Linked DNA regions of Homo sapiens: region 1 is linked to region 2. The links come from fine-mapping of genetic effects on gene expression. Tissue or cell type: whole blood. Region 2 holds a variant in brackets; the other region holds the start of a gene. All regions are shown on one strand. Distances are between the middles of the regions.

Region 1 (4,164 bases), 110 kb after region 2:
GTCGGCTGACTCCATTCCTTCCCAAGTCCTCAAACCAGGTGGCATCTTTTAAACGAGTCCAGGATCTGGAGCAAGGAGGAATCTCCCTGCCAGCCGGTGGGGACTGCTGGGAACACATATGCTAGCATGTCATTTGGAAGTCTGCTAATATGTTGTAAGCAGCACAAGACGCTTGCCTGGCTTCCCAGGCCAATAAACAATGCCATTCCAACTCCTGCAGCAGTCAATAGGAAACAGTCCCTTTTCTCCACCATCCAACAATTGAACAAACATTTGTTCCTGTTGAACAACCGTCAGCCTGGCTCCATCTGCACCCGCTCCTGCAAGGCGAGCGCGGCGGCGAAGGCGACGGCACAAATGCCCACCCCAGGATCCCAGACCCGGAATGCAAGCCATTCCGGGGGCCACTTTCCTAACACCACCGAGTCCGGAGATTGTACCGTATGGAAGACTCGGAGTGTGGCCTATAGGAGGCAGAATCCCATTCATCAAACGCTGCAAAGAGCTTTTCTTTGTTCACCATCGTCCTAAGTACAGTACGTGTTAATGAGCCCGGGCGGTCAGATGGAAGGAGCTCGGCTTCAGGGGGCGTCCGAACGCGAGGGACCCGGGCAAACCTGTCCGCGCGGTTCGTCGCTGCTGCGGCGCCCCGGCCCGTACTACAAGCATTGTTCCCCAAGTCCGAAAATGGGGGTGGAGAGCTGGGGGCTGGGGGACAAGGTGGGGGGGCGGGGGGAGCGAGAACACACTTGGGACAACACAAACCGCAAACCCTCCCCGGATTCTGGGTGTCCTCGTTTCTTTCGTCTCTGCCCCAAGAGAAACCCTGAGCGGGGAACCTGACTCCCACGGGCTTGCAAAATCCAAGACTAGCAAAAATGTGACTCGACCAGTGTGCCTGTGCCGGACGGCCCTTCTCGCCATGTGCAAAAGCCACGCCGGCGCGGACGCCCCCACTCCGCAAGCCCCAGCGGTGGCCTCCCCGCGGGCTTCCCCCGCCCGGGACAGAATGCCCCCTCACCCCCATCCTGACCGCCCCGGACAGTCCAGCAGCAGCGGAGCCCGCCGCCTCGCTCCCGCACCCCGGGGGTGGCGGGTGCAAACTTCCGCGAACAAAAGAGTTGTCTGCAAACGATGCGGGAACTTCGGGGCGAATGGGGCCGCCCGGCTCCCGAGACTCCGCGCCTCCTCCGCAGCGGCTAGTCAGGGCTCAAGTTGAGACGCGGAGAGGACACCCCCGGGCGCAGCAGTCCCCGCGCCCGCCCGCCCTGGCCTGGGGAGCGCAGACTTTTCCGCCGCAGCCAGGCTTGTTCTTCCCCATGCCTGTGCTCTGACAAGTCTCACGCCTGCATCAGGGGCGAGACCGAGCGCCCGGAGAAACCGCCCGACCCAACCCAAAGGCGAAACAAGGCAGAAAAAAAGGAAACCAGCAACATTAGGAAAAAAGAAAAAAAAAAGGCAAGCCCATTGCGCACGCGAGCCGGGCTCCCTCCAGCCAGCGGCCGGGACGCACACGGCCCGGACCTCGCTCGGGGCCAGCCCCCCGGCCACCGCCGCCGCCGCCCGGCCCCGGGTCGCTTACTGTGCGCGGCGGGGCGCTCCGGGCGCGGACCCCGCGCCGTCACCGCCAGCGCTCGCCAAGTCGTCCGGGGTGCCCGCCGCGCGTCCGCCGCGCGCACGCTCGCCTGCCGGCGCCGAGCGCTTTGTACGAGCGACTCCCGGGGAGGAGGAAATCGACTTGTCACTTCCTGAAGTGTTTGCAACTCGTCCCTTTAACCGGCACCGGCCAGGCCGCCCGCACCCGCCGCCGCCGCGGAGCCGCCAGACCGCGGCTGCGTGAACTCGGCCCGGCGCTTAGCGGGCGGTGTCGCGGGCCCGGGCGCTAGGCGCGGCGGCGGCGTGCAGGAGGCAGGCGGCGTGCGGCGGCGGCGGCAGGCGAGTGTGCAGTGCGCGCAGCCGCCGATGGGCGGGGAGTGAGGGACTCGCGGCGCGCCGCCGGCGGGGCTAGAGGGCGTCCTGCGGGCTCAGCCGCGCGCCGCTCGCCGCGCTCGCGCCTGCGAGGCCCCGGGACGCGGGAAGTGGCCCCGGGCCTGGGCCGCGCCACCGCGGCTGCCCGGGCCCCGCGCCAGAGGCCCTACGGGCTTCTCTCCCCGCCCCCAGCACGAGCCGGGATGAAAACGCTGGGCCGCATAGGCTTCAGGCGTCCAGCTTCCGGGTTGTTAGATGCCGAGGTTCAAAAGAAACGATCACTTCAGTGGCGTGCAGGACAGCGGGCGGGTGGGGTCGGGGAGGGGGGACCTTAAAGTGTTGTCACACTTTGGGAAAATAAAGCGCAAATTTCCTAACTCGGGGCGCTGTGACTGTGTACTTCAGAAGCCACATCCAAAATACATGCAACTGGCGAAGGAAGGATTTGTGGTTGCTAAGCAGAGGCAGAGCATGTTTAGTTCTGTAACTTAGGATGTTGACTTAAGTTCAGGAATGTAACCCTGATAGAATAAGCAGAGTATTTTCATTGTGCTGCTCACCTGGGGGAGGGGGATTGTTTTCCTTGTGAAGCCCTAGATTTCCCATTACTCCTTCCTACTGGTGTATGTTATTTTATTGACCTTGTATCCAAAAAGCGATTTTTAAAGAGAAGTTTTTTTAAAACTCCCTATGCCTGTTTTGTGTTCTCCTTTGCCAAAAAAACAAAACACCTCATTACTTTACATGGATTGTGTCTGCGCCATTTGAATGGTTCTATTCATAAATAAGGAAACTTTTTCTGTTGCTTCTAGGAACATTTAATTGGTTTTAATCCAATGTTTCAATCCCAGTATCAAACATAAATGAACAATTAACTTCTTGAGCTTTGTGTGCTTGGGAAACTATTATATTTCATGGCTATTGCTGAAATATTTCAGAATATCATCACACCGGACCCATTCTTTTCAGAAAAGCATGAACTGACATCTCCTTTCACACTACAGCTCGCTCCACTGAGTTCTGCTGCATGATTAGAATGGACAGCAATCAGTGGAAAGGATATGAGTCTATTCATTTCAAGTTACATGATGTGGGATAGAGTCAGTTCATCCTAGAAAGCCAAAATGAGCTAACATACAGAATACAGCATACTAAGATATTGATATCCTTACCCATATACGTTGCTTTTTAAAAATGCATTAAGGACCAATCTTGAAAGGAACAAGATCCAAGAACCGATGGTGAACAAAAGAAGGCCCAAGGAATAATCTAAGAATGCTGCTATGCTTAACGAAAAGAGTCAGTGTTTCCCTAAAGCCATCTGATATCACACAATCACCTCAGCCTTTCAGAGCTTTAAGGACAGAGTTTAATTTACTAACGTTTTATTAGGAAGCCTAGAGTGACTCCTGCTGGCAAACATTCAGTTTATTCCTACAATTACTAGTTCATCAGGTCAACTTAAAAAACAAGATGCAGGGTCCCAGGCCTGGAAACAATTATTACAACCATTATTCTTGTTGCTTTCAGGATGATTTGCGTTTCACATTCCAAGGATGGTGGTCATGGCCAGTTCCTCTGCTGTAACACCTCCTTTCCAACCTAAAGCAGCCTGTTTTTCTGGTTCTGAGGCTTTCTTGAGGCTGTCTAGAATATACTTGCTTAAGAAGTTATGCTATTAACCAATAAATAGTTACTTCTCATTTTCTAGATTTGTATCTCCAAAGGCTAAAAAGATATGCATACATTAAGACCTGTGTCACACTTAACCTTCCATACTATAGGTTCTTCCCACATGATATAATAATCCTACAGCTATATTATAAAACATCCTCACTTCTTAGTGCTCAGCTCCATAGTTCTTTACTAAGAAAAAATTCTACCCAAAAGGTTGTTGTTATATTAGAGTTCTGCTCAATTCAGAAGAGTAGCTAAAAATGTAGAACTCTAGATTTAAAGCTATGTAAAAGCTGCAATGGGGTGGGGACATGGAGCTAAACTGTCTATCTTTGTTCAATCCAAAATGGTCAAAACCAGATTTTGCACACAACCAGACACCTAAATGCAAATTCATAGGCCAATTTAGGAATAAATCCATAAATAATCTAAAAACTATTACTTGTAACTTTTCCATTATCACCAACCAACGCTAACCTGATTAAGCCGGAGAACACCCTGGGAAATATAAAATGCAGG
Region 2 (4,391 bases):
CAACAGGAAGAGGGAGATCCCAGGAAAACACTGTTTTGCTGTACAGAGGTTCAGGTGGCCCCCTGCCCGCCCACCCTGGGATTGCTTTGCACCTGCAGCCTTAGCTGCACCTGTCTTGTCCACAGAGGCCCACGTTGGCCACTGGGGGCAGCTGCCAGGCCGGGCCCCATCCTGCGGAGGTTAGAGGAGGCTGCCTGTTTGTCACCAATGGTTCTGGGTGGGGAATGGCCTCTCATGTCTGTGAGCAGCCTCGGTGGCCGCAGGACACACAGAACACGGACACCTGGGCCAGGTGTCTGCAGTTCTGATGTCTGTGACGCCAGAGCCCCGCTCCCACTGGCCGTGTTTTCACACCCACCAAGCAGAAGAGATGCAGAGGCGGAGTTCCCAGAGTCAGGTGCAGCTAGACTTCCTCTCGATCTGGGGGGAGCGAGACTTCTTTCCTCCCAACATCAAAACAGAAGTCATAAGGAGAAGGCAGGCAAGCGCTGCAGAAACACAACTGATTTATCTGCCCAAAGAGGCCTCAGCACAGAAAACTCCAGGAGCAAGCAGTCACCACAACCCTCCAGAGGCTGCCCTTTCTGACAAAATGCTCCCTGCTCCCACTCGAGAGGGCCCCCTTGGAAATGGGGTCTAGATGCACCTCTGGGGACCTCCATCTCTCCTCCATTCTGAGCAGGGGCTGGGTCACCCTTGCTGGTGCTGGGCCTCACAGGGTCCGCAGGTGGCAGGAGACAACCAGACATGCCATGAGGCAGCGCAGGTCCAGGACGTACCTGGCAGGACGTGGGTGCCTGGCTTTGGCTCCAGCCGCCTTGTGCTGGGCATGCCCTGGGGAAGTCTTGCTTGCTCTGGGCCCATCTGCACAATGAGGGTCTTCGGCTTGAGCCCCGGGTGTCCCTGCCCTACCCTGCAAAGCCACTGCACCGAGACTAGCTTCGATGCAACTTGCGACCGGGCACCAAATCCAACTCAGACCTGTACTGCTGACCACCCTAATGGCCACCATAGGCCAGATCCCATCTTGAGCTCCAGACCCAATGGGCATGTCCCTGCTGATGTCCCACGCTCCTCTCAGCTCAATGTGTCTCAAACCTGATCCAGCACCTTCCTCCCCAAGCTCTCAGAATAAAAAGCAAACACCTCACTCCAGGGCTAAAGGCCCGGTATCTCCAGGCCAATCTCACTCATACCCTCCCTGCCTACTCAGGCTCCCCTGGACACATGGAGCCCCTCCCATGGAGTGCCCTCCATAGGCCAGGATCGCCCGCTTCCTAAACCTCTCTCTCCCGAAAGACTCTTCCTGCCATTGCATAGCCCAGCTGAAATGAAACAGCCACCCCAGCCCTATCAAAGCCTCCATGGAGCCTCTCTGTGCAGGCAGAGGGAATTTCGCTCTCCATTCTGGAGCCCCCCGCACCCAGGAGCTGGTGGGCCCTCCCTGTCTGAGTGCCTCTGTGGGCTGCAACCCTGATGCCTGGAAAAACAGGGTCAGGTGGCTGAATGAAGGACTGAAATGATGATCCATTTGGGGTGGGATCCTGCCTGTCAACACTAGGACCGGGCCTGGCGCCATGGCTCACACCTGTAATCCCAGGACTTTGGGAAGCTGAGGCAGGCGGATCACGAGGTCAGGAGATTGAGACCATCCTGGCTAACACAGTGAAACCCCGTCTCTACAAAAAACACAAAAAAATTAGCAGGGTGTGGTGGCGGGCGCCTGTAGTCCCAGCTACTCGGGAGGCTGAGGCAGGAAAATGGCATGAACCTGGGAGGCGGAGCTTGCAGTGAGCCAAGATTGCACCACTGCACTCCAGCACTCCAGCCTGGGTGACAGAGACTCCACCTCAAAAACAAAACAAAACAAAACAAAACACTGGGACCGGTGCTTCCTTGGGCATGTTACGCAATCTGAGTTTCTCTTTTCCCATCTGTAAAATGGGGAAATAAAACTGCCCTAGAGGGGCTGCATGGAGTTGAAATGAGATCACAAGCAGCTCGGGGCTCAGAGGGGTTTGAACAGCACCTGATGGTGCCAGCTGCACCACGACAGAGGGAGTGACCCACGTTGCCCACGAGCAGCCCCAGGCAGACACAGCACAAGGAGGACCACTGACCACCTCACCCCACCCACAAACAGTCCATGAAAGCAGAGACCCCAGGCATGCTGGGGCGGGGGAGGCCATGCTGGCCCTCGCTGGCTACTGGAGCCCTTCAGGGGCGAGGACAAGGTGGCAGACCAGCAAGGCTTGGCCAGCAC[A/G]TCCCAGCACGTCCAGCAGGGCAGCTGGCCATGGACATGCCCGCTGGTGGTGGGTGTGGAAGGACATTCCTGGGCACATTCTGCTCCTCTGGGCTCAGCTGGCCCCACCTGCAGCGCCAGAAGTGAGTGGTGGGGACAAAGTATATGTAGGGCCCTGGTGTTCCCTGAGCCCCACAGGACCTGCTGGAGACTGCATTTGCTAAGGCTTTTCTCACCTGGAGGCAAACCAAATACTGGCTTAGCTATTGGGTGGAGATGTGGGGAGACTCACCCCAGACTTACCCACCAGGGACCCTTCCTGGGGTGGCTCAGCCTCTTGCCCATATAAGTCCCGTCTCTCTAACCCAATGTGACACCTGACAGGGAGCCCCTAGTTCAGGGCTTCTGGACCACAGGGATTCAGAGGTGGGCCATGGGGGGTTGGGTTCTGTATTTTCTACCAGGACCGGGCCAGACCCACCCCAGCAGGAGGTCAGGATTCTGTGCCAGGTTCAGGCACTCAGGAAATGTTTCCTTAAAGAGTACTGGAGGTGCCAGGAGATCCCCAAGAGGGCTGAGGACAGGGCCCATCCTCAGCAGTGGGCATGCAGCCCGGGGCATGCTGTTTGCCACCAAACAGACACAGAAATAGAAAATCTGCTCTGTCTAGCTGAGTGGCCTTGGGCGGGTCATGGTGGGCATCACGAGGCAGACCTCTCGAGGCAGCTGTGCAGGCTGGATCAGAAGGGGTCCTGGGAAGACCCAGCTCAAGGCCCAGGGTGCTTGGCAGGTGGGGCTCCCACTCAGAGGCCCAACTCAGGCTCCAGAAGGGTTGGCCGGGGTGGGTCTCTGTTCTTTTGACTTTCCCAGGGACACACCTCAACATAACTATGAATTTTCTGATAGGCTTTTCCCCCCCTTTCTATATTTTCCCCTTTTGTTCATTACTGTTTAAATGCTTGGCAGAATATACAAACACAGCGCCCGCATCCCAGAGTGCCTAGCTGCGTCTGAGTGAAAGTGCTGGAGACAGATGCCTGGGGCGGGCATGGGGGGACCTCTCACCTCCATCAGCTCATCATCCAGGCACAAGGGACAGGCTCTGCCAGCCTCCTTTTACACCTGGAGAGACAGAGGTTGGTTTGGGCAAACTCCCACCGAGAGGCAGTGGCAGGGCCAGGTTCAAATCCAGATCTGTCTGTTCAAAGCCTGCACCCACCCTTAACCACCACGCTGCACCTCACTGCTACCATAAAATACCAGAATTCAGGATGGCAGAAAATCACTTTCTACCCCTAGGAACCCCCAGCAAGCCTTGCCTGCTGCTTGGTAAAAATTCCCAACTACAAGGCTGAAAGCCCTTGGGCAGAGCCACCACACCAACTGGAGCAGCAAAGAAGGCAATTCAGGGAGCCCTGACGGCTGCACCTTGCTACAGGTGCATTCTCAGGTGCACCCCGTGGGCTTGTCTGCGAGTGTGAGGAGCAGCACAGCCTCAGGCCCTCCACACCTCTCCGGCCAGCACCCTCAGCCTGCACAGCTCTGCGCGGCAGGTTGGGGAGGGATCGTGTTCCTGAGCAGCCAAGCCTTGGCCCAGAAAAGGGCAGGCAGTGGCTGGGATAACAAGGGGAGTAGGGGGCACACCAAGATGGCCCCTGAAGAATGTGCAGGGCTTGGAGCCACCCTAAATCATTCTTAAATCCATGTGTTTCTTCCTGTGCAGAAAACCAACCCAAAGGTGGAGATGCCATGAATCCCACCAGTCCGTCATCCCCTAGAATCTTGTCTTGTCCTGGGAACAAAGGCAGGGCATTTCTGGAGGTTCGTTCTGGTGTCCTAGCAGCTGCAGAGCCTCGAATGATGGCAGAGCTAATGTTTACTAAGAATTTACCCTGAGCTCCATGGGATCGCCCCACTAAACCCTCACCTCAACCTTGGGAGGGGGCGCTACTGTCATCAGAGGTTTGGTGAGGCCACACAGGGAGTGAGTGGGGAGGATCTAGGTGCCAGCAGTCTGAATCCGGGATCAGGCGCTGACCACCATGCAATACAGCCCCGAGCGCAGGAAGAGAGGAGGAGGAAAAAGACAGCCCCCGCTGCGGCAGAGCAGAGTGAGGCAACAGCCCGGCAAAGGCCGCAGAGGGCACGC

Evidence for each region. PIP is the estimated chance that this variant, and not a neighbour inherited with it, causes the effect.
Region 1: it holds the start of FAM53B, and the variant in region 2 is fine-mapped to the expression of FAM53B in whole blood (TOPMed, PIP 0.95).

What each region holds. Positions count from the first base shown.
Region 1 is chr10:124,742,431-124,746,594 of GRCh38, forward strand. It overlaps FAM53B (family with sequence similarity 53 member B), which reads right to left and starts at 1,948. Exons shown (of 5, transcript NM_014661.4): 1 at 1,583-1,948. RefSeq lists silencers at 827-906, 997-1,206, 1,527-1,686, 1,737-1,846, 1,867-1,916 and 1 more.
Region 2 is chr10:124,636,522-124,640,912 of GRCh38, forward strand. All of the region lies in intron 4 of FAM53B (family with sequence similarity 53 member B), which reads right to left. Among named protein-coding and RNA genes, the nearest start is that of FAM53B-AS1, 65 kb to the right of the region's middle. RefSeq lists enhancers at 1,692-2,192, 3,351-4,090. The variant A/G (reference allele first, on the strand shown) is at 2,264.